Linked DNA regions of Homo sapiens. The protein of the gene in region 4 interacts with the protein of the main gene of each other region in a pairwise test. Each region holds a gene or a part of one and is shown on either strand. Other genes may lie near its edges.

The links.
Region 1: the proteins of E2F2 (region 4) and KMT5A interact in a two-hybrid assay, tested with the Homo sapiens proteins (one study listed by BioGRID).
Region 2: the proteins of E2F2 (region 4) and RNF144A interact in a two-hybrid assay, tested with the Homo sapiens proteins (one study listed by BioGRID).
Region 3: the proteins of E2F2 (region 4) and SPIB interact in a two-hybrid assay, tested with the Homo sapiens proteins (one study listed by BioGRID).

What each region holds. Positions count from the first base shown.
Region 1 is NC_000012.12:123,387,130-123,394,151, forward strand, and holds part of KMT5A (N-lysine methyltransferase KMT5A), read left to right. Parts: intron 1-1,781; exon of another isoform or gene 1,782-1,938; coding exon of another isoform or gene 1,939-2,053; intron 2,054-2,303; coding exon 2,304-2,425; intron 2,426-2,907; exon of another isoform or gene 2,908-3,213; intron 3,214-3,500; coding exon 3,501-3,657; intron 3,658-4,145; exon of another isoform or gene 4,146-4,301; intron 4,302-7,022. UniProt on the Homo sapiens protein: Protein-lysine N-methyltransferase that monomethylates both histones and non-histone proteins. Specifically monomethylates 'Lys-20' of histone H4 (H4K20me1).
Region 2 is NC_000002.12:6,913,358-6,920,427, forward strand, and holds the start of RNF144A (E3 ubiquitin-protein ligase RNF144A), read left to right. Parts: upstream 1-4,054; 5' UTR 4,055-4,265; intron 4,266-5,044; exon of another isoform or gene 5,045-5,325; intron 5,326-5,436; exon of another isoform or gene 5,437-5,497; intron 5,498-7,070. UniProt on the Homo sapiens protein: E3 ubiquitin-protein ligase which accepts ubiquitin from E2 ubiquitin-conjugating enzymes UBE2L3 and UBE2L6 in the form of a thioester and then directly transfers the ubiquitin to targeted substrates.
Region 3 is NC_000019.10:50,421,925-50,428,946, forward strand, and holds part of SPIB (transcription factor Spi-B), read left to right. Parts: intron 1-548; coding exon 549-621; intron 622-898; coding exon 899-1,113; intron 1,114-1,680; coding exon 1,681-1,831; intron 1,832-6,113; coding exon 6,114-6,412; 3' UTR 6,413-7,022. UniProt on the Homo sapiens protein: Sequence specific transcriptional activator which binds to the PU-box, a purine-rich DNA sequence (5'-GAGGAA-3') that can act as a lymphoid-specific enhancer.
Region 4 is NC_000001.11:23,521,216-23,528,237, reverse strand, and holds part of E2F2 (transcription factor E2F2), read left to right. Parts: exon of another isoform or gene 1-833; intron 834-1,167; exon of another isoform or gene 1,168-1,308; intron 1,309-3,459; exon of another isoform or gene 3,460-3,649; intron 3,650-3,749; coding exon 3,750-3,855; intron 3,856-6,181; coding exon 6,182-6,401; exon of another isoform or gene 6,402-6,652; coding exon of another isoform or gene 6,653-6,666; intron 6,667-7,022. UniProt on the Homo sapiens protein: Transcription activator that binds DNA cooperatively with DP proteins through the E2 recognition site, 5'-TTTC[CG]CGC-3' found in the promoter region of a number of genes whose products are involved in cell cycle regulation or in DNA replication.

The DNA.
Region 1 (7,022 bases), on a different chromosome or scaffold from region 4:
TACAGGTGTGAGCCACTGCGCCCAGCTGGTGTATTTGTTATATACGTATAAACTTGCGGAGAAAGGACTGTTTTGAAACTTACATTGAATGATCTGTATTTACATCTTCTAGGTACTGGAGCTGCAGAATTGAGAGGAATAGGTGCTAGACTTGTAATGTGTCCCCTGCAATTGGGGGCTCAAATGCAGAGAAAGCTATGACCATGAGTGGGGCGTGGGGTGTGGCTCGGTATACTAGAATGTGAAATGGATAAGATGATCTATGTGGGTGCTTCCTGCTCCAAAACCATGATTCTCATGGCAGTTAAGCTGCAAAACTTCTCTGCCTTGCAGAAATAGAAGACGCTTTCAAATGGCTCAACCTGGTTATCAGAGTGTCACTTTCGAATCCTCTTTCACCCTCTGGGTAATCTTTTGGATATTCAACTGTAGTAGGCTCTGCAGAGGGCATAGGCAGAGTACCTAGCCCACTGGAGTTAGTGGTTGGGCTGGAGACCCTGCCTTGAAGGATGCTAAAGCATGAGCTGATTTGGGAGGGATTGTCTGAGCAGTGACCTGTCACCACCTAATCCTACTCAGTCTTATCCGTTCCAATGGGAGTCGAGGGAGGCTAGGTGGGAGGATGGCTACAAACAGCCATTTGCTTATCTGTGGATGTTGGAAGGTGCTCTGGTGGATTATGGAATTCAAGGTTCTTGGTTTTTACCCATGAGGACACTGAGGCCCAGACTGGGGAAGTGACTTGGCGATGGTCACAAAACACCTCTGGGCAGATGCAGGGAAATAAGTCCAGCCCCTGACTCCCAGGCCATGGGCCAGGCTGCAGGAGCTGGATGCCTTGAAGTGTCTTGTTTGCATCTATGACTTTGCACAAATACAGTGAATCTGGCTGTGGGCCCTCAAGCCTTAATGGCCACAGAGTAGTGGTGCAGGGCAGTGAGCTATGCTGAAACAGCCACCAGAGTGACGGGAACCTCGTCTGCCTATGGGGGCATTTTCTCACGGCGGGATAGGAGAACAAGGTGACATGTTAAACCCTTCTGCAAGACCATTTGCTTCTCCCAAACTCCATTTCCTCATCTGTAACCAGGAAGGGTAGTGGCTGGGAGGGCAAGGCCCTGGGGTCAGTTGGCTGGGGCTGAAAACCCATCTAGTTCTGAGAACTTGGCCAAGCTCCTCACTTTCTCCATCTGTTGAAAAGAGATAATAATGGTGTCTACCTTTGCAGGGCTGCTGTGAGGTTTCAGTGAGATAACGGCAAGAGACTCGCCCAGGAAACCGATCATTATAACCCCTGGCTCTGTCTCCCCAGGGCTTCCTACCGGTCAAGTACAGCCCTTCTGGGTTTGACACCTGGCCCCATCACTTCCTAGTTCTGTGGCCCGGGACAAACCCCTGCACATCCCTTGAGTCACAGTGTCACCATTGTAAGCTGGGATGCCGACAGGACCTGCCCCCGTGGGCGTGCGGGGAGGATTCAATGCCTGTGAAACTCTCGGTGGGCACAGCGCCGGGCACACCCGAGGGCCTGGCCTGGCGCGTTCACCGCTGCTGATTTCGTCTGGCACAGACCGGGTTCCCAAAATATCCGCAGAGCCAGCGGAAAAAGGAGCCGGGCGGGCTGGCGGGAGGGCGGGCGGGAGCCTGGGCTGTCATGACGGTGTTTCCCACCCCTTCCTCCGCGAGTGGCTGAGGCCGCGCGAGAGGGGGCGCGCCCGAGCCGGGATTCGCCGCGCCCGCCCGCCCGCCCTCCGGAGCGGCCTGGCGGCGCCGCCCCTACCAGCCCCCTCCCCGGGCCGGGCGCCGGACGGTGGGCGGCTGCGAGCGGGCGGGAGGGCTGCGGAGGACGCGCCGCCTGCGCCTCCTTCCCTTCGTGCCTCGCCCCGGGCGGCCCGGGGCTGCCGCGGTGCGCGGGTGCCGGGCCCTGCCTCGCCGGCCATGGGGGAAGGGGGCGCCGTGGGGCGCCGCCGGCCCTTCCCCGGGGCGCCGCGGCGGCGCTGGTGGCGGCGGCGAGGGCGCGGGGCGCGCCGCCATGGGCCTGGCCGGGCTGCAGGTGGGTGTGTCGGGCCCGGCCGCGCGGGGGGCGGGCGGCGCGCGGGGCCTGGCCGGGCCGGGCGGCGGGAGGGCGACGCGGGCTCCGGCCCGGCCCTCCCGGCTGCGCGGGCGGCTCACCAGAGCCGGGGCCTCGAAATATGGCTGCGGCGGGAGGCGCCGTCGCGGCGCCCGGCCCGGGCGGCCCCGCTCCCCGCCCCGCCGCGCCCTGAGCGCCCCCTCCCCCGCTTCCCCCGGGTCCCCTTCTCCAGGCAGGAAGATGTCCAAGCCCCGCGCGGTGGAGGCGGCGGCGGCGGCGGCGGCGGTGGCAGCGACGGCCCCGGGCCCGGAGATGGTGGAGCGGAGGGGCCCGGGGAGGCCCCGCACCGACGGGGTAAGCAGGCACCCTCCCCGCACCCCTGCGGCGCGCCCGCCGGGCCGGGGCCGCGAGCACATGGGCGACCCCGGGTACCCGCCCGGGGCGCCCGGCCGGGCCGCTTCCTTTGCTGCCGCCTGGCTGGGAGTGGCGCCCACACGGCTCCGCCATGAGCCTGGCGGTGTTTGACCTCGGAAAAGTTTGACTGCGCCTTCGTGGCGTCTCCGCAGCCCAAGACCCTACTTCCCCGGAGGTGGCCGCGGTCCCAGGCTGTGCGGGGCCTGCGCGGGCCCCTCGGAGAGGTCACGGGTCTCACCGCCTCGGTGTTGAATGGTCCCCGAGGCGGCGAGGGCCCGGCGTTGCTTCTGGGGACGCCCTCCTCCGTCTGTACTTACTCAGAGGAGGGGCCCCACGCCCAGAGGCGCCCGCAGTGACCTGAACCGCCCCACCGCCCCGTCCACTCTCTTACTGACGCCCAGGTGCGGCTTGCGACAAAGTGGCCGCCCCGAATGCGCTGGCTGTGGCTCCTGCTCTTCCCAGATTCCCCAGTCACCCTGAGAGAAGTCCTCCCGTCGCAGCCCTGGAGGCTGCGGGGCTGCAGTGATTTGAGAGGGGTCAGGCTCCGGCGCTCATGGGGCTCTGGCTGTGCTGACAGGCCCTCCAGCCGCCCTCAGCACCAAGTGGTTAATCAGGTTCCCCGGGGCGTGTTTCTGTGCTGAGTCCCTGCGGCTCCTGCCAGGGCAGTGAACTCCTAAAGATAGCCTAGCTCTTCACATGCCCAGGTCCTTTTGACCTCCCTGTTGCGGGTAGGCTGTCTTCTTCCTATATAGACCTTGGGTTGCAGCCGACTCTCCTGCTGGCCAGCTGTCCCCTTAGTGATTTAGAGACCAGCGCGTTTAGGAAACGTTTCACTGGACCTGGGATTCTAAACCTGCCAGTGCTCTCCTGAGACAATGGGGGCTGGCATCCCCTGGTAGCCCAGTTTTTGAAAAACGGTGTTGTCTGATTTTCATCTTTTGTATTCCTCCTCCTCGTGAATGCTCTAGGATCTTCTTCTTCAAGCCTCTTTCAGAATATGCTTTTGTCTTTTTAGGAGAACGTATTTACCGGGCAGTCAAAGATCTATTCCTACATGAGCCCGAACAAATGCTCTGGAATGCGTTTCCCCCTTCAGGAAGAGAACTCAGTTACACATCACGAAGTCAAATGCCAGGGGAAACCATTAGCCGGAATCTACAGGAAACGAGAAGGTAAGCTTTTGAAATGGCCTCGTTCTGATCCCAGCTGGTCGGGTTGCAGAAGCCTCTGTCCTCTGCAAGAATGCACATATGTATTTATCCAACCTTTTCAGTCTCAGATTCGAGAGGTTTGAGCCATGTTCTGTCTTGCTGCTGAAAGAATGGCTTGTCCCAGGGTGTGTGCCCTGTTGGTTTGACAGGTTTTCCCTGCTTTCACAAGAGTTAGCATATCCTTCAAGCTTGATTGTCTTGCTTAGTTGCAAAAATAACATACCTGACCCACAATTAGAGAGGCTCACAAGTGCTGAAAGTGCAGAAGTCATGAATTCAGGTTGTACAGACCAGGCAATTGCAGACCTAACTAATGTGTTCATGTAGGGAACTGACTTCCTTCCCTTTTATGAGCTGGCCTTGACCCCATTTCTTTTTCTTTTTTTGAGACGGATTTCCGCTCTCGTCCCTCAGGCTGAAGTGCAATGGCACGATCTCAGCTCACTGCAACCTCCGCCTCCTGGGCTCAAGCGATTCTTCTGCTGCAGCCTCCTGAGTAGCTGGGATTACAAGCGGCCGCCACCACGCCCAGCTAATTTTTGTATTTTTGGTAGAGACGGGATTTCACCGTGTTGGCTAGACTGGTCTCAAACTCCTGACCTCAGGTGATCCACCTGCCTTGGCCTCCCAAAATGATGGGATTACAGGCATGAGCCACCGCGCCTAGCTGCCTTGACCCCATTTCTAAAGTTTCCTGCCAATCAAGCATTTGGTGTTAGTTTCTGAAGCAGCATCCTATGCAATGAGATTTGGAGTTAAAATGTTAAACCCGAAAATACAGGGTTAATGAAAACGGTCTGGTCTTGCAAAACAAACTGAAACCTCTTAGACATCTTGCTCTAATCCAAATATTCCCTTTCAAAGCTGCAGTGGGGAGTGTCAGCTTTCCCCAATTCACCATGCTCTCTTCTAATTAAAACTTGTCTGAAAGAAGCAGAGCCTCTGGCTGCCAGCAGCTCCATACAAGGAAGCCTTGTGTTCGCTAACAGAAAGTGTCATAAATGACGATTTGGCATGACCTCTGGGGCCGGATCTGAGAACCAGGGCTGGGCAAGCCCTGAACTGGGGACAGGAGCCCACCCTGTGCTTGATCTCCCCTGGTACACAGGGCAATATTGTTTTATTTGATCTTCAGATGACTTGGGTTCCAATCTTAAGTTTGCCACCTGAAAGAAGGAGGCTTAGATAGGTTGCTGCTCTCTTCTGAGCCTCTGTTCTCTCATCTGTAAATGGGGAGAGAGGAGTCTGACCTCACACACACAGGACTGTTTTGAAGGGTGGTTGCAGCGTGGATGCCAAAGGGCTTTGTGGTGGACTCCATGTGCCAGCTCTTCACCCCTGGACTGCCAGCTCATCCCTGGACCTGTGGCACTTAGAATTCCTGCCCATAGGGTTGGGGAGAGGCGCTGTCTATAAATGGTAGTTGCCCGGACTCTAGTCCTTTAAAATAGGGCAGTCTATACATTGTACCAAATGGTGGCCTGGTATACAAGCTAGTATATTTGGCTCATGGTTTTACTAAATGGCCATGATTAGAATTTTGGGTCAGAGTCCGGGCATGGTGGCTCGGGTTTGTAATTCCAGCACTTTGGTAGGCCAAGGCAGGAGGATTGCTTGAGCCCAGGAGTTTGAGACCAGCCTGGGCAACATAGTGAGGCCTCATCTCTACAACAATGAAAACAAAAAAAATTAGCCTGGCATGGTGGCATGCATCTGTAGTCCCAGCTGCTTGGGAGGCTAAGGCAGGAGGATCCCTAGCACCCAGGAGTTTAAAGCTGCAGTGAGCTATGATCATGCCACTGCACTCCAACCTGGGGAACAGAGAGAAACCCCATCTCTAATATAAAAATAAAAAGAATTTAGGTCAGCTGGACTTTGGAGACCCCAAGGTCCAGGCTGTGGTCCGTGATTCTGCTGTGATACAGACTGAGTGATAGATAATGTTCACGGGCACCACACACTCCTGGGCCTGATGTCCTGGCTTTAATTCTCTCTGATTTCACCCAGGAAGGTGTGTAGAGGAGGAAGAAAGATCTGGATGGTTTTAATGGTTTTTGTTTGTTTTTTTTGAGACACAGTCTCGCTCTGTCTTGCAGTCTGGAGTGCAGTGGTGCAATCTCGGCTCACTGCAACCTCCATCTCCCGGGTTCAAGCAATTATCCTGCCTCAACCTCCCAAGTAGCTGAGATTACAGGTGCCCGCCACCACGCTCGGCTAATTTTTTGTATTTTCAGTAGAGATGGGGTTTCACCATGTTGGCCAGGCTGGTCTTGAACTCCTGACCTCAGGTGGCCCACCCGCCTTGGCCTCCCAAAGTGCTGGGATTACAGGTGAAGTCACTGTGCCCGGCCTAATGTATTTATTTATTTTTCTGTTTTGTTTATCTAGATATAGTTAATATATCATAACGTTCATGTTAAAGCGTATGAGTCGGTGGTTTTTAGTATATTCACAGGGTTGCGCAACCATTACCACAGTCTAATTCCAGAACGTTTCCATCACCCCAGAAAGGTACCCATTAGGCGTCACCTTCGATTCCCCATCCCTCTAGTCCAAGGTAACCATTAAAGTACTTTCTGTCTCTGTGGATTTGCCTGTTTTGGACATTTCATATGGATGGAATCACAAAATACATAGCCTTTTGTGTCTGGCTTCTTTCACTGAGCATCATGTCTTCAAGGTTCATCCGCGGTGTAATAAGTATCAGTGCTTCATTCCTTTTTTTTATTTTTGAGAAGGAGTCTCTCTCTCTCACCCAGGCTGGAGTACAATGGTGCAATCTTGGCTCACTGCAACCTCTGCCTCCCAGGTTCAAGCTATTCTCCTGCCTCAGCCTCCCAAATAGCTGGGATTATAGGCGCACACCACCACGCCTGGCTAATGTTTTTATATTTTTAGTAGAGATGGGGTTTTACCATCTTGGCCAGGCTGGTCTCGAACTCTTGACCTCAGGGGAGCCACCCTGCCCAGCCCTTCATTCCTTTTTATGGCTGGATAATACTCCCTTTTGTGGATAGGCCACATTTTGTTTATTCATCTGTTGATGGACATTTGGGTTGTTTCCACTTTTTGGCTATTACAAATAAACTGTTACGTTCCTGCATAGATTTTTTTGGGGACATATGTTTTTAATTCTCTGGAATAGATGCCTAGGAGTGAAATTGCTGGGTCATATGGTAACTCTGTGTTTAACTTTTTGGGAAAATGTCAAACTGTTTCTAAAGTGGCTGCACCATTTTATATCTGTGAGCAGCGTACTATTTACTTAATTTTTTTTTCTTTTTTTTTTTTTTTTTGAGACAGAGTCTCACTCTTTCGCCCAGGTT
Region 2 (7,070 bases), on a different chromosome or scaffold from region 4:
TGTGTCCAAATTTCCCCTTTACATAAGGACACCAGTCATATTGGATTAAAGCCCACTCCAGTATGATCTCCTCTTAACTAATCATATCTGCAATGACCCTATTTCCAAAGAAGGTCACATTCTGGGGTACTGGGGCTTAGAACTTCAGTATACGAATTTTAAGGAGGCACAAGGTGTCCGTGACAGTGCTGTGTTAAGTGACTGGAAGGATGAATTTCCTTTTTCACTTGCACTTTCTTTCTTGAAGTTTTGTTTGAAGCTGCTTGAAGACATCTCTGCATCCTGTCTTATGTGGATGCTACTCCCACTGCAGAGATTATTCGAGAGGTTGGAAAGGTTGGAAAAGAAAGAGAGGATGCTTTTGAAGGGAGAAGGGTAAGAGTACAGACAAGGGAAGCTGTATTAGTCTGTCTGTTCCCACACTGCCAATAGAGACATGCCTGAGACTAGGTAATTTATAAAGAAAAAGAGGTTTAATGGACTCACAGTTCCACATAACTGGGGAGGCCTCACAATCACGGCGGAAGGCAAGGAGGAGCAAAGTCACAGCAGGCAAGAACATTTGCAGGGGAACTCCCCTTTATAAAACCATCAGATCTCATAAAACTTATTCACTGTCACGAGAACGGCACAGGAAAGACCCACCCCCATGATTCAGTTACCTCTCACCTGATCCCTCCCATGACATACGAGAATTATGGGAGCTACAATTCAAGATGAGATTCAGGTGGAGAGACAGCCAGACTGTATCAGAAGCTTTGCCAAGAAGACCCGGAGAGTAGCAGGAACTCTCCTCTGTTCTTTGGCATTACCCTGTGAAGGCTGTGTGGCTCACCTGGGGACTGTGCCTCTGGCAGGAAAGTCTTGTGCTGTCTGCTCCTGAGAGAAGGCATGGCTTCTGGAATGAGATGATCAGTAGCACAGATGGGCTGAAGATGAGACGTTACATTCCACATTCCCAGAACCATAATATCCCCCAGATTCCTCTGTGTCCTTAAGGAGAGAAAGTCAGAATGAGAACTGACATTTGATTTCCTGCTACTCTAGAGAAACAAGAAATGGAATTTGTTAATTTTTAAAATAAAAAAAGTGAATTTTCTATATTTATGGAATGTGTGATTACAAATTCACATAAACTTCCTTGTCTAATTTTTTTTCTTTTCTTTTTCTTTTTCTTTCTTTTTTTTTTTTTTTGAGACTGAGTTTCGCTCTTGTTGCCAGGCTGCAGTGCAGTGGTGCGATCTCGGCTCACCGCAACCTCTGCCTCTGGGGTTCAAGCGATTCTCCTGCCTTAGCCTCCCGAGTAGCTGGGATTATAGGCATGTGCCACCACGCCTGGCTAATTTTGTATTTTTAACAGAGACAGGGGTTTCTCCATGTTGGTCAGGCTGGTCTTGAACTCCCAACCTCAGGTGATCTGCCTGCCTCGGCCTCCCAAAGTGCTGGGATTACAGGCATGAGCCACCACACCCAGCCCCTTGTCTAATTTTTTAAAAAAAATTCAAGTGTGGGTCTTGAGCTTCCCTTGATTTTCTGTCTAGAAGAGAAGTGTCAGAACGGCTATCTGCTTTCCCAGCTTCTGGGCCATTTGCTGCAGCACTGAGTCGCCAGCCTGCTTCGCATGAGCAGGGAAATTTTGCCCATCTAGGTAATCAGGAAGAGCTTGTTCAATGAGTGAAGGGTGAGTCATACTGCATTGGCACAAACTCTTGGCAACAATGAGTGTCCTTTACAATGGGCTCTATGGGACAGCCCTCTGGGGGAGATGGGCCAGCCAGACCTGAGTAAGGGGCTGGACTGAAAACTGACAGTGACAGGTGGAAGTGAACTTGAGAGACCCAACAAACTTCTTGTTGGAGAGAACTAGGACAGCTGCTCAGAGGCAAAGCTCAGAGTAGAGGATTTCACTCAGTATTTATTGAGCACTTATTATGTTCAAGGCCCTAAGAGGGAATATGTAGAAAAATGCTGTTCTCTAGAATCGTAAGATCTAAGCATCAGAAAGTGAATGCCACAAACATTAAGTGTGGCAGATGCCATGATCAACACAGACAAAGACTAAGTATTACACCAGCTCAGAGATCAGAGATCTAGGGATGGGGAACTCCATGATAGGCCGGGAAGTCTTTGCAGGGAAATCTGCATCTGAGTGCCTTTTGAGGCCTGCTGCAAACAAAACTTTCAATGCCAGTGTCCCCTCTCACTATCTCCCCAACAATGGTTGCATTCACAAAGACAGAGCAGGGGAATGAAGTCACATGTATTACCACATGAGCAATTACAAGTCTCAGTTGGGTCAGGGCATTTTTGCACCTTAACTCTCTTCCTGCAGCCCCAGATGCTCCTTTGCAGTCCCCCAGCTTGAGTGTTATACGTCTGTGTTCCATGAGAATGCCTGCATCTTAATACAGACCCCTTTATTGTGGGGAACACAGCACAACGTCTGTGCATTTGCAGTCACCCACCTGTGCATCCCCTGAATCCTTCATTCATAAGTAGTACTCAACCAGGAACTTCTTTGGTATCCCAGCTCGGACACGGGAGGTGTGAATATATTTTTCATAAAGCCCAGGCCTTTATGCAGAACGATTTTCATCCTCTAGTGAGAGGCTGAAGTAACAAAGTGCTGTTGTTAAGATTCTTCCCATTGTGCATTTTTCTTGAATAATGACATTTCTAAAAAGAATCTGAAACTGAGGCATTAGAAGGCAAGTGCTCGTTCATATATTTGAAGAGGTCAAATATTTACCAGAATAACTTCTCAATACAGAGGGGACAGCTTTATTTTATTTTACTATAAAGATGTATGTGTAGCAGAAGACAAATTATGCAGAGCTTTGAGTTAGTTAAGAATCATCTGATTTAATTCTTTGGAGAAATGAGACAAATTGTAGCTAAGGACTATGGAGTTGTTTTAGTTTGCCAGTTATATTTAATTTGACTATTTCTTTATTTATTGAGAGACAAAGTCTCACTCTGCTGCCCAGGCTGGAGTGCAGTGATGCAAACACAGCTCACTTCAGCCTTGACCTCCTGGGCTCAAGCAGTCCTCCTGCCTTGGCCTCCCAAAGTGCTGGGCTTACAGGTGTAAGCCATGGCACTTGGCCTATTTGACTTGTTTAATCCCTCCGAAGAACTCATACATACTATTGCCACCTCATTTTCCACGTAAGAAAATGGAAGCACGAAGACCTTAATAACTTGCTTAATGGCTAGTAGGTGGTAGAGCTTGAATTTAGACCACACAGTGTGGAGGGTATGCTATTAAGGAAAAACGATGTTCTAGTGGGGTTTCCATTTAATATTGCAGAAAAAAGAATCTATATATTTAAGAAGGTGTTATTTCATGCACACTCGTAGGTTTTGTTCATATATGCACATCTGACGTATAATTTAACATTTGTGTAACTTCAAGCTTCTATGGGGAGTGGCAGAAGATGCAGGAATTCTATTAATACCTTCGCAGATCTTAGATTCCAACAAGCTGGATACCTTAAGAAAAATAAAGAAATTGCTGTGCTTGGATCCCAGATGTCCATTCCACCTTTTGGGACCTCCCGGGGGGCCCTCTTTTCTTCATCCTTCAAGACAAGGATAGTGGGGTGAACAGACAGACTTTCCTTGCGAGGGTTGGCTCAGGAAGGCTCTGGGCTCATCTCACAGCCGCCCCAGCGAGGGTCGGGGAGGCAGGTGCTGGCTCCGGTGGGGTCTGCGGCAGAGCAGGACTGGAGCCCAGGGCGCAGCTGCACAGCTCAACGCCGGTTCGCGCCCTGGTTTACAGCGTTGGGCTGGGTCACCCCTTCTTTCCTAGCTTGCTGCTGTGTGTTCCCTCGGTGTAGGAATCAGGGGAGTGTCTTCTGGAGGCCACTAAAGCAGGAATAGCATTTTCATGTTAGCGTGCACGGGCGGTCTCCGCAGCCCCTCCTCGTGCCGGAGCCTGTCCTGGGGCCTGCGGGGCGGCTCCGGGCCTCGGGCCGGCGCAGGCGGGCGGCAGGGGGCGCTGTGCGGCTCGGCGCGGGGGCGGGGCCGGGGCCGAGCCTCCCGCGTGCCCGGCCTCTGTGCGCGCTCGCGCCCCGCCCGCGCAGCCGCTTCTCCCCGCGCGGGCTCTCGGCAGGCGGGAGGCGGCAGGGCTGGCATTGCAGTGCGGGCCGTGCGGGCTGCGCGGGCGCGGGGAGGCGCGGGCGGCAAACTGCGGGCACCCGGCACCCCGCAGCCAGTACCGGGCGGAGGCGTCAGAGCCGCGCACCGCGGACGAGCAGGCCCAGGTAGAGTGACGCGCGTCCCCTTTGTGTCCGCATCGCCCGGGCCGGCCGCGGAGCGGGGAGGGCGGGACGCGGCGCTGCGCGGCCGGCCTTGGGGCTCGGGGCTTGCGGCCGCGCCTGCCCCGCTGGGTCCTGCCCCGGCGCCCGGTGGCAGCGGGCGGGGGGCAGCGTCCCGGGCGGGGACTCGCGGGCTCCGTTCAGAGGACGCCCGCCCTGCCCTGCCCGTGTCCCTGACCTCGTCCCTGCTCTGCTCCTGCCCTGCCCTGCCTCTCGCAGGCGGCGCCCGCGCCCCAGGGCAGTGGGCGCTTAGGGACCTGGCGTCCCCCTGCCTGCCCTGCGCGGTCGCGGGTCTGCGCTGCGGCGCGGGACAGGGCGCCCCGGGCCAGGGTCCCGCGGGCGAGCTGGCGGCGGGGGCTTTCAAGGTTCGCGGCCCCGCCCGCAGACCCTGGGGCTGGAGCCTCGGCCCCAAGAGGAGGTCTGGGAAAGGACGACGCGTCCGGGGCATCGCCACCGGCGGGGAAGGTCGGAACTGGCCAAGAGGATGCCCCGCACATCCCCTGCGCGCGGGGTCCGCGGCTGCTACTGCCCCTGGTCCCCACCGCGAGCCCTTTCCCGGGGAATGAGCCGCCGCCCGAGCCCCGGAGTTCCCTGCGGGTCTTACCCACCCCAGCCTCCGGCCGCCGACCCCAAGCCCCCTGCACTGTGCTTGGCTCCCAGCTGTTTGGTCGCTTATGCCATCCTGGAGGCTTCCTGGTCCTGGGGTGAAGGGGTGACTTCTTTACCCTAATGGTCTTCGTAGGCAGGTCTCAGGATGTCCACTCCAAAGTTCGTGGTCTTTTTTCTAGAGAATAATAATTTTTAAAATCCATTGAACTGGCCGGGCGCGGTGGCTCACGCCTGTAATCCCAGCACTTTGGGAGGCTGAGGCGGGCGGATCACGAGGTCAGGAGATCGAGACCACGGTGAAACCCCCTCTCTACTAAAAATACAAAAAATTAGCCGGGCGCAGTGGCGGGCGCCTGTAGTCCCAGCTACTCGGGAGGCTGAGGCAGGAGAATGGCGTGAACCCGGAAGGCGGAGCTTGCAGTGAGCGGAGATCGCGCCACAGCACTCCCGCCTGGGCGACAGAACGAGACTCCGTCTCAAAAAAAAAAAAAAAAAAAAAAAAAAATCCATTGAACAAACATCCTGCGCTGCCTCCTGCAGGATCAAGGCTGGGGTAACAGAGGAGTGAGGTAAGGCCCCAGGGAACTATCCCCAGTGGATCCCTGCTGCCCTGCGGTGAGAGGGGGTCTAGCTCCTGCACTAAGAGCCTGGGAAGAAAACACTTCCCGTAATGGGGCCTGGGAGATGGAAGGAGGACATGCCCCAGTGAATGGGGCTGGGGTTGAGAGTTGAGCCTGGCAGATAAGATGGATTTGTAAATGAAATGCCAGGTAGAAAGTAAGTTGGTGTAGACGCCTGTGGAGCTGTGGGAGCCCCCAGGAGGGAAGGGAGGGAGTCAGGGTGTCCCTGCAAAGGGAGTCCCCTTTGCAAGGGAGGGGGTGTCTGAGTCAAAGCTTGCAGGTGGGGCAGGTCAGAGGTGGCAGGAAGGGCCTCTGTCCAGAGAGAGCTGCTCCAGCGCAGGAAGGGGGAGGGACAAGGTGTGTGACACCGTGAACTTTCCCAGGGGATTCACCCAGTGGCTCCAAAGGAGACAACAGCCTTTTTTATTGTATTCTCTTCTCCGGTACTGAGATTAGGGAACCTTGTTTTTTGCACTTTTCTAATGCCTTTTACATTTTTGTTTTTATTTTTAAAGCGTGCAAAGGAAATGTGACTAGAGGGGTCAGAAGAGGATAAATCATGAAATCTTTGAATTCTAGGCCAAGACTTTGGGTTTGACTCTGTGTCAGTGGGAGCCATTGATGGTTTTGGAGGAGGAGGGTGATCTGAGCCCTGCTTTAGAGTGATTTCCGCGGTGTTGCGTGGAAGGGAAGGCATGGTGTGGTGTGCCTTACTGTGGCTTCCGAGTCAGACCCCCACTGGCTGTGGGCTTCCACCTGCATCAGGCATCAAAGGCTGTGGATGGATTGAGGACCTCATGAGAAAATGGGTGCAAATAACCCAATTTTAATGGGATGGAAATTTTCCAGACCCAGTGCAATTTGATTTTTGCAGTTTGTGTTTTTAAAGAGCTCCCGATTCTAATGTCAGCAACTCTGGAAGAGGAACTAATGAAGGGCAAACTCAAATGCACGATGCAGGCACCCCCAGGTCATCTGTGCCATGAGGATTTGGGAAACTCAAAGAGCATTGTAAAATGCATATATTTTATAAATAGATTCCAGTGCCCTCAGCTTGCTAGTTGGTAATCCCTGTATCCAGACTGTTGCTAGAGTAAGTCACGTCTCCTGGGGATTCAGTGTGGTTTGGGACTTTGAAGGGACCTCACACTGTTTGGCTGAAGCTGCTGAGGTTCAGGGGTAGAAGTGCCACTCTGGCAGGCGGCGGCAGGGTTGGGAGCTACAAGCTACGTTGCCTGCCTCTGAGAACATTCTTTCCCCTGTGGTCCACCACGTGGCCCCACTGCCTACTTTTGTTCACATTTCTCCCTCCTGGAAGCCTTTCCCTCTGGGGGTAGAGATGGGAAGGAAGCCTGCCCTTGGAGACTGACAATCACAGAACCAGGTGGGCCAGCACCCACCTGGCCTATGAACCCTTGTTGTAACCATGGGAACCTCGTAGCTTGGAAAGGAGGGGTCAGGTAGCCCAGGCCACATGAAAAGCTGTGGCTGGTCCAGCCCTGGCATCAGCTTTTCTGGTTCT
Region 3 (7,022 bases), on a different chromosome or scaffold from region 4:
TTTTTAGTAGAGACGGGATTTCACCATGTTGGCTAGACTGGTCTTGAACTCCTGACCTCAGGTGATCTGCCCGCCTCGGCCCCCCAAAGTGTTGGGATGACAGGCGTGAGCCACCACGCCTGGCCTGGAGGTGTATTTAAAAAGCATTGACCCCTGCCTCTGTTAAGTGAAACACTTCCATTTCCCCTTGCCCTTCACCTCCGGAGCCCCCAGGCAGGCAAGGCTGGGGGAGTTCTTCCACCCCTTCTCCAGGCGCCCTGATTCGCTGACTGTGTGCCAGTGAGGGGCCAGGGTTCTTGGGAGCCCACCGTCTTAGCAGGAGCTGGCTGCTGTGTGCCCCTATTGGGTTGTGTCTCTACTCTCTGTATCTCTGTCTCTTTGTCCCTGTCTCTGATGCCTAGTCTCTGTGTTTCTTTGTTGCTCTAATCTCTCCAGCATCCCCTCTTCTCTCCCATGTCTGTGTTGGAGTCTCCCCAAGGGTCCAGGGTGGGGGTTGGGAGTCCCCAAGGCCTGGGATGACCCCTCTTCCCTCCTGCACCCCGTATCAGTACCCAGATGGCGTCTTCTATGACCTGGACAGCTGCAAGCATTCCAGCTACCCTGATTCAGAGGGGGCTCCTGGTGAGTGACCCCAGCCCTGTGCCCTTCCTGCCTTGGGGCCCATTTCACAGATAGGGGAGCTGAGGCCCAGGGGAGGTCATTTCCTAGCACAACAGGATAAAGGTGGCCCGGGCCTATAGCCCTCCTCCCCTTTCCTCTCCTACCCATCCGCTCCTCCATGCAAATCCTGGGGTCAGAGATTTGCACAGCCTACAATGGCCTCTCTGTGCTGGGGGCTTCGACTGCGAGGAGGCCTCCGTGAGACATCCCAGCTTCTGACTCAGTGCCCTTCCCCCAGACTCCCTGTGGGACTGGACTGTGGCCCCACCTGTCCCAGCCACCCCCTATGAAGCCTTCGACCCGGCAGCAGCCGCTTTTAGCCACCCCCAGGCTGCCCAGCTCTGCTACGAACCCCCCACCTACAGCCCTGCAGGGAACCTCGAACTGGCCCCCAGCCTGGAGGCCCCGGGGCCTGGCCTCCCTGCATACCCCACGGAGAACTTCGCTAGCCAGGTGAGTGGTAAGGGGACAGTTAAAATCAAGCCCAAACCAGGTGTGGTGGTGCACGCCTGTAATCCCAGCTGCTTGAGAGGCTGAGGTGGGAGGAGGATTGCTTGAGCCCAGAAGGTCGAGGCAATCCACTGCACTCCAGTCTGGGCAACAGAGCAAGACCCTGTCTCAAAAAAAAAAAAAAAAAAGAAAAAGAAAAGAAAACTCAAGCTCAGTCATTTGGTTGAGGTTTGCTGGGTGCCGGGCACTGCATTGAGACTGCACATAGTAAGCCCTGCAGCGGCCTCCCAGGTTACGTTCCGTTGTTGCCCCTCTGAACAAGTGAGTCAAGAGAGGTAGTGACAGGAAGCCAGGGACAGGGCAGACTCGCATTACCTGTGTTGGGCCGGCTTTGAGGAGGTACCTCAGGTGTCCCCTGGCCACAGCGTGGTGATCTGAACAAAGGCCAAAATCTAGGCTGTCAACAAAGAGGGAGACCAGAGCCAGGAGGGCCACCGCCTTGGCCTGAGAGGAGGAAGTGGAGGGAGACAAGGGGTCCCTGGACATGCAGGTGACCCTGACCTTCCGCAGACCCTGGTTCCCCCGGCATATGCCCCGTACCCCAGCCCTGTGCTATCAGAGGAGGAAGACTTACCGTTGGACAGCCCTGCCCTGGAGGTCTCGGACAGCGAGTCGGATGAGGCCCTCGTGGCTGGCCCCGAGGGGAAGGGATCCGAGGCAGGTATGCGGGAGTGGCTGGGGTGGGGGAGATGCCAGCTGGAGATGGTGGGGGGGCTGAGAGCACCATGGCTTCCTGGGCCTCTACATATACTCCAGCACTCTGGGCAGCTCCCAGATCCGCACCACCTGCTGGCTGTGTGACCTTGGGTAAGTGCCTCTACCTCTCTGTGCCCAGGTTTCCTGTCTGTGCGATGGGGATGGAGGTGATAGTGTCTACCCTCCTGAGGTCGTTGGGGGGACTAAATGGGATAGTAAGTGTAAATGGGACAGCAGTGCCAGGCACAGAGTGAGCACTTCAATAAGTCAACCTCTTCACCATCATTCCCGACACCACAGCAACAGAAATGATAATGCTATCAACCCCCAACGGTTCAACCCTTGCCCCCTGCCCGTGTGCCCAACATCCTTTATGCTCAACCCCAAGAAAGCTGAGATCGTTCCTTCCTTTCTGTGTCTGGGCCTCGGTTTCTCGTCTGTAAAGTGGGCATCACTGTCATCCTCCCCATCTCACGGGGTTATGATGGAGATTCAATGAGCTCATAACTGTAAAGTGCCTTGTGAAGCACCTGGCACTACATGCTCCACGGTGCATTGTAAAAATCAACACACAGGCTGGGTGTGGTGGCTCACGCCTGTAATCCCAGCACTTTGGGAGGCTGAGGCGGTCAGATCAACTGAGGTCAGGAGTTCGAGACCAGCCTGGCCAACATGGCAAAACCCCGTCTCTACTAAAAACACAAAAATTAGGCTGGGCATGGTGGCTCATGCCTTTAATCCCAGCACTTTGAGAGGCTGAGGAGGATGGATCACGAGGTCAAGAGATCGAGACCATCCTGGCCAACATGGTGAAACCTCACATTTACTAAAAATACAAAAATTAGCTAGGCGTGGTGGTGTGCACCTGTAGTCCCAGCTACTCGGGAGGCTGAGGCAGAAGAATCGCTTGAACCCAGGAGGCAGAGGTTGCAGTAAGCCGAGATCTTGCCACTGCAGTCCAGCCTGGCGACAGAGTAAGACTCTGTCTTAAAAAAAAAGAAAAAAGAAAGAAAAAAAAATTAATGGGGCATGGTGGTACATGCCTGTAATCCCAGCTACTCAGGAGGCTGAGGCAGGAGAGTTGCTGGAACCCAGGAGGCAAAGGTTGCAGTGAGCTGAGATTGCACCACTGGACTCCAGCCTGGGTGACAGAGCAAGACTCCGTCTCAAAAACAAACAAACAAAACCACAGCCTCATTTAAAAAATTTTAATTAATTAATTAATTTATTTTTTGAGACAGAGTCTCGCTCTGTTACCCAGGCTGGAGTGCAGTGGCACGATCTCGGCCCACTGCAACCTCCACCTTCTGGGTTCAAGCAATCCTCCTGCCTCAGCCTCCGCAGTAGCTGGGATCACAGGCACCCACACCATACCCAGCTATTTTTTGTATTTTTAGTAGAGATGGGGTTTCACCATCTGGCCAGGCTGGTCTCAAACTCCTGACCTCAGGTGATCCGCCCGTCTCGGCCTCACAAAGTGCTGGGATTACAGGCGTGAGCCACTGTGCCCAGCCACACAGCCTCATTTGTGGCTGAGAGACTTCAGCTCAGAGAGGTTAATTAAGTCACCTATTTTAACTTAGGACATTTAAGATGGAGAGGATCTCTCCAATGACTAGGAAAGACACAAGATGGAAATAAAGATTTTATTTATTTTTATTCATTTATTTGAGACGGTCTCCATCTGTCACCCAGGCTGAAGCGCAGTGGCGCAATCTCGGCTCACTACTGCCTCAAACTCCTGGGCTCAATCGATCCTCCTGCCTCAGCCTCCTGAGTAGCTAGGACCACAGGCGTACACCACCACACCTGACTAATTTTTAAAATTTTTGTAGAGGTGAGGTCTCGCTATGTTGCCCAGGCTGAACTCCCAACTCCTGAGCCTATGTGCTCCTCCCACCTCAGCCTCCCAAAGTGCTGAAGTTACAGGCATGAGCCACCACACCCAGCCAGAAATAAATTATTTTATGGCTTATAGGTCCTGGGGCATACATGGCACGCCTGGAGGCCACACACACCAGGTCAGGGAGCGCAGGCAGGGAGGGAGAGAGAGAGGGACCAGTGGACTGACGCCTTTATTGGGTCCAAGGCGTCGGCCAAACAGGTTTCCTGAGGGGGTTTTAATTGGTGGGTTCAGGCCAGGCACAGTGGCTCATGCCTATAATCCCAGCACTTTGGGAGGCTGAGGCTGGTAGATCACCTAACGTCAGGAGTTCAAGACCAGCCTAGCCAACATGGTGAAACCCCGTCTCTACTAAAAATACAAAAATTAGCTGGGCCTGGTGGTGCACGCCTGTAATCCCAGCTACTTGGGAGGCTGAGGCAGGAGAATCGCTTGAATCCAGGAGGCAGAGTTTGCAGTGAGCTGAGATCATGCCACTGCACTCCAGCCTGGGCAACAGAGCAAGACTCCAGCTCAAAATAAATAAATAAATAAATACTTGGTGGGTTGAAAGCAAGCAGGATCAAGTTCCAGGAGGTCACGCTGTGCCTGAGAGGGGGTCACTGAGGCATCTGCACAGTCCATGCAGGGCCGTCAAGTAGGCTGTCCATGGCTCTCCCACAGGGAGGTGGTCACCAGGAGTCAGTTGCATAAGAGAGATATCTGGGTCAGCCACACTGAGGAACTCGGGGAGGGAGATGTAGAACTGCCAAGGAGGACAGCCCTGCTTCCAGCATGAGAATGTCCAACTTTTATTTAGTTTTATTTTATTTTATTTTGAGAGGGAGTTTCGCTCTTGTTGCCCAGGCTGAGTGCAATGATATGATTTCAGCTCACTGCAACCTCTGCCTCCTGGGCTAAAGTGATTCTCCTGCCTCAGCCTCCCAAGTAGCTGGGATTACAGGCATGAGCCAAGCACACCCAGCTAATTTTTGTATTTTTAGTAGAAACCGGGTTTCATCATGTTGGCCAGGCTTGTCTCGAACTCCTGACCTCAAGTGATCTGCCCACCTTGGCCTCCCAAAGTGCTGGGATCACAGGCATGGCCCACCGCGCCCAGCCTCCAACTTATACTTTCGATGAATGCCGAGGCAGCCTAAAATTATAAGAATTCAATCCGGGTGCAGTGGCTCACACCTGTAATCCCAGCATTTTGGGAGGCCGAGGTGGGAGGATCACCTGAGGCCAGGAGTTCAAGACCAGCCTGGGCAACATAGTAAGACACCATCTCTACAAAAAATAAAACAATTAGCTAGGCATGATGGTGCATACTTGTAGTCCCAGCTACTGGGGAGGCTGGGGCAGGAGGATTGCTTAGGCCCAGGAGGTCGAGGCTGCAGTGAGCTGTGATTGCTCCTCTGCACTCCATCCTGGGTGACAGAACGAGACCCTGCCTTGAAAAAAAAGAAATTAAGATGTCACTACGTCACCACCCCAAGGTCACACTGCTGTAAAATGGCAGAGATGGGATTCTTGTAGCCAGTGCCCTGCTTTGAAACTCCCAGTTATTGGCCGGGCGCAGTGGCTCATGCCTGTAATCCCAGCACTTTGGGAGGTCGAGGTGGGCGGATCACCTGAGGCCAGGAGTTCGAGACCAGCCTGGCCAACATGGCGAAACCCCGTCTCTACTAAAAATATAAAAATAAGCCGGGCATGGTGGCAGACGTCTGTAGTCCCAGGTACTCGGGAGGCTGAGGCAGCAGAATTGCTCGAACCCAGGAGGCAGAGGCTGCAGTAAGCCGAGATTGCGCCATTGCACTCCAGCCTGGGCCGCAGAGCAAGACCCCGTCTCAAAAACAAACTAAACCCTAGGAGCCCAGGAGTCAGGTGCCCTGGCCTCTCCCGGGACCCTGTCCCGCTTTGGGCTGAGAGGCTGGGAGACCAGGAGCTGGAGAGATAGCCAGGCCAATGCAACTGCCTCCAGATCTGTTCGCCTCTCCGTTATAATCCTTTAAGCGGCGCTGTCAACCCATTTCACAGATTCTTTCATCCACTAGCTCAACAAATATGGAATATTACGTGCTGGCCGCAGGGCGGAAGGCAGGACAGATGTAAATCTCGAAAATTAAAGCACAGAACGCGGAGGGGGCCTGGGGCTGACAGCTTCGGGCAGGGGGAGTGGCTTGCCCCCCCCCCCCCCCGTGGTGAGGGGCGCAGAGCCAGGTGTATGTAACAGCCACTTCCCTCACCCCACTTTTCAGATCCAGGAGATGGAGGCCGGGGTGGAAGTCTCGGAGGAGGGTGGATGGGGAAGGCGGGGCCTTAGGGACCCCTCACCTAACGCGTGCCCCCGACCCCACCGCAGGGACTCGCAAGAAGCTGCGCCTGTACCAGTTCCTGCTGGGGCTACTGACGCGCGGGGACATGCGTGAGTGCGTGTGGTGGGTGGAGCCAGGCGCCGGCGTCTTCCAGTTCTCCTCCAAGCACAAGGAACTCCTGGCGCGCCGCTGGGGCCAGCAGAAGGGGAACCGCAAGCGCATGACCTACCAGAAGCTGGCGCGCGCCCTCCGAAACTACGCCAAGACCGGCGAGATCCGCAAGGTCAAGCGCAAGCTCACCTACCAGTTCGACAGCGCGCTGCTGCCTGCAGTCCGCCGGGCCTGAGCACACCCGAGGCTCCCACCTGCGGAGCCGCTGGGGGACCTCACGTCCCAGCCAGGATCCCCCTGGAAGAAAAAGGGCGTCCCCACACTCTAGGTGATAGGACTTACGCATCCCCACCTTTTGGGGTAAGGGGAGTGCTGCCCTGCCATAATCCCCAAGCCCAGCCCGGGCCTGTCTGGGATTCCCCACTTGTGCCTGGGGTCCTCTGGGATTTCTTTGTCATGTACAGACTCCCTGGGATCCTCATGTTTTGGGTGACAGGACCTATGGACCACTATACTCGGGGAGGCAGGGTAGCAGTTCTTCCAGAATCCCAAGAGCTTCTCTGGGATTTTCTTGTGATATCTGATTCCCCAGTGAGGCCTGGGACGTTTTTAAGATCGCTGTGTGTCTGTAAACCCTGAATCTCATCTGGGGTGGGGGCCCTGCTGGCAACCCTGAGCCCTGTCCAAGGTTCCCTCTTGTCAGATCTGAGATTTCCTAGTTATGTCTGGGGCCCTCTGGGAGCTGTTATCATCTCAGATCTCTTCGCCCATCTATGGCTGTGTTGTCACATCTGTCCCCTCATTTTTGAGATCCCCCAATTCTCTGGAACTATTCTGCTGCCCCT
Region 4 (7,022 bases):
GGCCACAACCCAGATCTCCTGGCTCCCTGTCCAGAGCTCTTTCCAAGTCCTCTGAGGAAGGCTCAGGGAATGCCCCTTTATCGCATGCCTCCTCTGGCCAGGCGCATGGCATCATTCTCTTTCACGCCTGCAGGAAGCTCTGCCCAGGCTGGCTTGCAATAGCGCCATCTCTGCTCACTGCAAACTCCACCTCCCAGGTTCAAATGATTCTCCTGTCTCAGCCTCCCAAGTAGCTGGGATTACTTTTTGTATTTTTAGTAGAGATGGGGTTTCACCATGTTGGCCAGGCTAGCTTCGAACTCCTGACCTCAGGTGATCCACCCGCCTTGGCCTCCCAAAGTGCTGGGATTACAAGCGTGAGCCACCACGCCCGGTCCTCCTTTTCTTTCAATTTGTCTACATTTTCCAGATTTCCTCTTGTGAGGCATGAAAGAAAATAAACATTTTAACACACAACTCTACAAGGCAGGTCAGGTGAGGAGGTGTAGGCTCAGAGAGGCAAGACAGTGAATCCCAGGCTGTTCAGCTACGAAGTGGCAGAGCTGGGATCTGAAAGCAAGGTTCGACCCCTTACATTTGCTCCTACCCCCACCATCTGACTTAGGGCTTAGGAGAGACCAGGCTCCACTCTGCGTGACCTTGGGCAAGTCAATTCCTCTTCCCCAAGTCCCAGTTTCCTCACCGTGGTGCCCGTAAGGGGGTTGTGCCTGGTGATCTCTGACCCTCTGCACTTCTGCAGCTGCCTGAGGAAGGAGCTGTACTCTTCTCCATAGGGGTTGGCAGGGTGGGCTTGCGTCCTGACCAGGCCTTGAAGATCCAGCCAAAGGGGCTGCCTAAGAGCGTCCAGGATAGGGCTAAGCTGGCCTCTGGCTGTGGCCATAGCCTTTGCTCTCCTCCCCTCATCGCAGTCTCTTTTCAGCTCACCCTTGAACTTTCCCCTTTTCCCACTGGTGCTCCCCATACATCAGTGCTAGCAGCTCCCTGGTGGGGGCACTCCCTATGGGCAAAGCGCTTTGCTGCACTATCTCACTGAATCCTCAGCATAGGTGGAGACAATGATGCCCATTTTATAGGTGACTTGACGTCAACTGATTTCCCAGCTAAGAAGGGGAAGGCCTAGATGCAAAGCCAGGCCAGTCTGACTCCAAGACCTGTGCTCAGCCTCACCTTGATGCTGATCCTCCTGGGCTTGTCCTCTGCCACCTGTGTTCTGCAGGTTCAGCCCAAGCCATAGGCTGACTTTCCTCTGGGCACTGTCCAAAGGTGTCAGGGAGGTATCCTTAGGGGGACACTTGCCGCATTGGGACCCTGGGAGTGCAGAATAAGGGTGAAGGAGAGTGAGAAAAGAGAGAAGGCTGTGTGTGTGTGTGTGTGTGTGTGTGTGTGCAAGTACATGCAGTGATGGGGGCAGGTGGGCGTAGCCCAGGCCTTGGCCCAAATTCTAGCAAATCCTGGGGCAGCGTGTGTGGGATGCAGCTGAGGCAGCCTGGTACATGGCTTTGCAGTCAGACAGGCCTGGGTTCAAACCCTGGCTCCGGCCTTTGTGTGACCTTGGGCATGTGCTTACTCTCTGTAAGTCTCCATTTTTTGGCTTCCGAGAGCCAGTGCCAATACTGATGTGGTAGGACTGTTACGAGCATGTAACAGGCTCAGCATAGATATTCTGTTCAAGGTCTTCCTGGGATTCTTTCTGGTTTGTTCTGGCGGGGGAGACAGGTGTGGCTGGGGAGGCTCTGGGCTGCCCCACCTCTGCCTCAGGTAGAACTCCACCTGAGCTTCCCTTCCTCTCCCTGCCCTTGGTGCTCCTGCTGGGGGATATATGAAGAATACTAGGATGTGCAGCCTTGGTCAGGATTGATGGAGGCCTCGGAGCTCCCCAAGCCTCAATTACTTCAGCTGTACAATGGGGATTAGTGGTATGGGAAGATTCAGTGAAGTGATGAATGTTGGGGCGTGGTTCAGGGCATGTGGAAGGTCTCAGCCAGTGACTGGCCCTTTCTCTAGTGACAGCATGGGGCTAAATCTCTAGAATATAGGATTTCACCAGTTAGGAAGGTAGAAAAGGAATATTCAAGAGACTCATTCAAGAATGAGCAGTAAAGTGTTTGGATGGTTTCCAGGTCTCGGTAGTGGTGGAAAGCAAGAGTGTTATATCCAGGCTCCTCAAACCAAGGAGCAGGGCTCCTCACATCAGCCCAGGAAGACTTCCTGGAGGGGGCAGGAGTGGGGGAAGGGGAACTGACAGCAGGAAGAGCTGTCACCACCTCCAACACCTGTCAGCCCAGCTGTGCTCAGCAGCAGTTAGAAGTCTCAGCCCTGCTGAGCATGACCTCACCACTAAATGTTAAAATAGGCCTCTCTGTCCAAGCCAGGGTAGGGGTGTCTGGGGGATCCAGAGTTGGAAAGAGGAAAGAAATGGGCTCGATGACCCCCAGAAGGATGTATGAAGGAAGAGGTCGAGATTAGATTTTAGGGAAGGGACTCTGTGTTTCCTGAACACCTACTGTGTGCTGAGACACAGGCTGAGAACTTTACAGAAGTTAAAGGAGCAGGAGCTAACCAGGGTCTTTCTCCCACATGCAGACAGGGAGCTAAATAAGTGCTTCAAAGGGAAGCCACGCGGGGATTAATTCAGCCTGTTCCAGGGTTTTTAAGATGCAGAGGCTGCCCAGGTAGTGCCTTCCTTGAATCCTTACAATAGCCCCTTGAGGTAGGCATTTTTACCCCATTTACAGAGGAAGAAACTGAGGCTCCTTAGATGTGTAACATTTCCCCCAACTTGTACCGTGAGCCTGCGAAGGAGCTGGAGATTCAAGCATGGGTCTCTGACCTATGTCCCAGTGTCCCAGTGCCCCAGCTCTGCCCCTGCCCTGCCCCTGCCCAGCCCTAACCAGGAGAGAGGCCCTTTCCGGGCCAGTGCAGCTCTGGGCCTAATTGGGGCCCGGGTGGCAACAGGGTGGAGAGGAGCAGATGGGTCTGTGGTTTGATTTCCCCAGCAGGTGTTTCCCAAGCTTGGCGGGAACAGAAAGGGGGAGCTGGAGGGGGGGGGTGGCCTCAGCTGCTTGTCCTTAAGACACGGGAAGGATTCATTGTCTGCCCCTCTCGGCAAAGAAAGAATGGCAAATGCAGTCTATTCAGGAGGCCCTGGGGCCCTCAAGCTGGAGCCCAAACATGGGGGTGGGGATGTTTGCACTGCTTCCCACTGTGGGCACCTCCCTGGGTTGTGGCACTGAGCCAGGAAGTCCCCTGGGTCTGGGCGGATGCCCAGCCCCGCCCTGATAAGGACCAGCTGTGGGACTGTGATGGGCACTCAGTCTAGCTGGGCCAGCTGCTTCTGTAGGGGGGCCCTTTCCCCACCCTGATGTGGTTTAGGCCCCACCCACTGCTTCCTCCTGGTATCATCCTCTGGGTGTGGTGGGGTGAGGAGCAGGTATAGGAGCCGGCTTAGGGCCCGTGGTTAAGGAGCTCTGAGCCCTTGGCCAGACTGGCTTTGGTAGGGTCTCAAGTGCCTGGGCCTCAGAGGATGGGAGTTTTATTTGCCCTTCAGAAAACAAGATTTCCCCTGAAAGCTCACTTCTCAGGTCACTGATGTTTTCCTATCAAGTACAGCAGTGCTTCACCAGGACTGGCGGTAAACTGAGGCACAGAGGTGGCTGCTAAGTGGCTTCATTGCTTTGGCCCCACATCAGGGAAAGGCTAAAGGAGGAATGATTCTCAAACTCTGCCTCTCTCTCCCCCTTTTCTCCAAGGCCAAAAGGAAGCTGGATCTGGAGGGGATTGGGAGGCCCGTCGTCCCTGAGTTCCCAACCCCCAAGGGGAAGTGCATCAGAGTGGATGGCCTCCCCAGCCCCAAAAGTAAGCAGTGCTGATGGGGCCTCTGGGGTGGGGTGGGGCAGGGGCAGAGGGCAGTGCCCTGCCCAATCACTGGTAGTCATATTTGGATCACTTTCCAGTTTACAAAAGCTTCCTGCGTATTTTATTATTTGATCCTGCCAGGTAGGTAGGCTTGTCTGTCTTTACTAATCAGGCAACTTGAGACTCAGAGAGCTTGAGTGACTTGCCCATAGTCTCAGAGTGGAGTCAGGACTAGAGCCTGGACATGTAAATCTTGCATTACTTCTGTGTTTTTTTTTGTTGTTGTTGTTGTTGTTGTTGTTGTTGTTGTGAGACAGGTCTCGCTCTGTCACCAAATGTGGATTGCAGTGGTGCCATCTTGGCTCCCTGCAACCTCCACCTCTGGGGTTCAAGCAACTCTCTCACCTCAGCCTCCCAGGTAGCTGGGACTACAGGTACATGCCACCATCCCTGCCTAATTTTTGTATTTTTAGTAGAGACACAGTTTCACCATGTTGGCCAGGCTGGTCTTAAACTCCTGACCTCAAATGATCCACCCGCCTCGGCCTCCCAAAGTGGTGGGATTACAGGCGTGAGCCACCATGCCTGGCCAGTCTCGCACTACTTCTACCATACCATGTACTGCTCTCATGATCTAAACTCAATGACCAGTGTTTTATTTGGGAATTTATTATTTTTAAAACGTTTTAATGTTTAGGTCAAGGTAAATTTTTCTAAATCAGAAGAGCAGGGGCTAACCAGGGTCTTTCTCCCACATGCAGACAAGGAGCTGAATAAGTGATTCAAAGGGAAGGGAAGCACAGATTAATCCAGTCTCTGCCACCCCAAAGGTTTTTAAGATCCAGAGGCTGCCCAGGTGGTGCCTTCCTAAAGCTAAGTTGGAGGGGGTTGCTGCCTCTTGATATTTTCAGTCAATATCCTGGATAGGCTGAGCGTGGTGGCTCACACCTATAATCCCAGCACTTTGGGAGGCCAAGGTGGGCAGATAACCTGAGGTCAGGAGTTCCAGACCAGCCTGGCCAACGTGGTGAAACCCCGTCTATACTAAAAATACAAAAATTAGCCGGGTGTGGTGGCGCATGCCTGTAATCCCAGCTACTCAGGAGGCCAAGGCAGGAGAATCACTTGAACCTGGGAGGCAGGTTGCAGTGAGCCAAGATCGCACCACTGCACTCCACTCCAGCCTGGGAGAGAGAGTGAGACTCCATCTCCAAAAAAAAAAAAAAATCCTGGTTAGAGCAGGAGTTAAAGCAACTGTGTTTGGGAGGAACACTAGTTTTGGGGGTCCAGGTAGGATTCTGCTCCGACCTGACAGGTCACTCCTGTGAACCTTAGTTGTTGTGAACCTTAGTTGTCTTGTGTAAAAGAAGACACAGCTAGATCAGGAATGGCAAGAAAGTTTCCTCTACATTTGATTGGTCAAGGCTGCCCAGAGCACTGTCTTGAAGGATCCTGAGGCTCATGATAACTGGTCCTCCTCCAGAGGAACCTAAGACTCTAAAATTCAGGTTCCAGAATTACTGGATTGGCCACTAACTTGCTATATGACTTGGAAGTCACTCGATTACAAAAGTCCCCTCGTGGTTTAAGATGCTGCAGCTGAGATGTGGTCTTGCAACATCAACCTCATTGAGAAAGGGACCTTTCTCATGAACCTCCCCGACTTGATGTTACAGGACCGATTTTTCTCAGATAATCATTGTGATTCACATGGGAAGAAAAAGCAAGTGTGTGTCTATAAAAATGCTCTTAAATCCAGGCTTATCATTTCTACCCTATTCTAATTCCAAACTCCGGACATTTAAGTGGCAGGATAGGGTAATGGTTAAGGAAAACTCTGGAGTCAGACTGCCTGGATTTGAATTCCAGCTTTGCCACTTTCTAGCTGAGTGAGCTGAGCAAATTACTTAAACTGTGCCTCAGTATTCTCATCTATAAAATGGGGATGATTGTACAGCAACCCTTACAGGGTGTTGTAGGGCTTAAATGTGTTCGTACATGGAAAGCACTTAGAACAGTGACAGTAGTTGTGGGTGGTGGTCTGGCAGCCCTAAGCTGTGGTGGAAATGTGCATTTAACCAGGAGTCAGGACACTAGGCTTCCAACACTGCCCATTGGCCGTGAGACCTTAAGCAAGTCACCTTCCCTCTTAGGTATCAGGTTCCCTGTCTGGACAGTGGTGGTGATGGATGCCCTGGCTCACACTGCTTTGTAAACTGGAAAGTGGGTGGTGAAAGGTGGTACTTAATGAGCCTAGGTCAATGGACGAGGGTCCTGGGCGGGCCCTCCCCTCCCTGAGCTGTGACTGGGTCCCTTTCTTCTTCAGCCCCCAAATCCCCCGGGGAGAAGACTCGGTATGACACTTCGCTGGGGCTGCTCACCAAGAAGTTCATTTACCTCCTGAGCGAGTCAGAGGATGGGGTCCTGGACCTGAACTGGGCCGCTGAGGTGCTGGACGTGCAGAAGCGGCGCATCTATGACATCACCAACGTGCTGGAAGGCATCCAGCTCATCCGCAAGAAGGCCAAGAACAACATCCAGTGGGTGTGAGTGCCTGGGCGGCCAGTGGTACCCTCCAATGGGTACTTGTGCTGTGGGCGGAGCCAGAGGCAATAGCCAGTGGGTGTGAGTGGCAGGGGCGGGGCTGAGAGCAACATCCAATGGGCACAAGGGCTGAGGCGGACCAAGAGCAACATCCAATAGGCTTATTGCTGGGGGTAGAGCCAATGTATGGTGAGGAAGAGCGCCGTGTACCTGCTGAAGTAATCGGAGAACGTGATGCGGGGCAGAGTGGAGAATGACATCTGGGAGGTGTAAAGGCCAAAGGGAACCTCAGATTCTTCCTCTTGAGTCAGAGATCCCAATATCCACTTCTTCTAGCTTAGGGCAGTCCCCTGGGAGCTAAGTAGGGGGATCCCGGACTCCTTCCAGATCTGAGATAGGAGTACTCCAGCCTCCTCTCTCCATTTCTACAGGGTTTAAAGAGCTGACCTATAGCCCTTGGCATAAATCCTAAGAGAAACCAGGCAGGGGAGGGAGTCAGGACTGAGGCTACTCCAGTTGGAGGAGGCTGGGGCATAGGGATGAACAGAGTCGAGAGCCCCTCAGAAATGGGGTTCAGGTCTTGACTTGTTTTTTCTCCCAAGCCCAACCCCCAAACCTCTGGT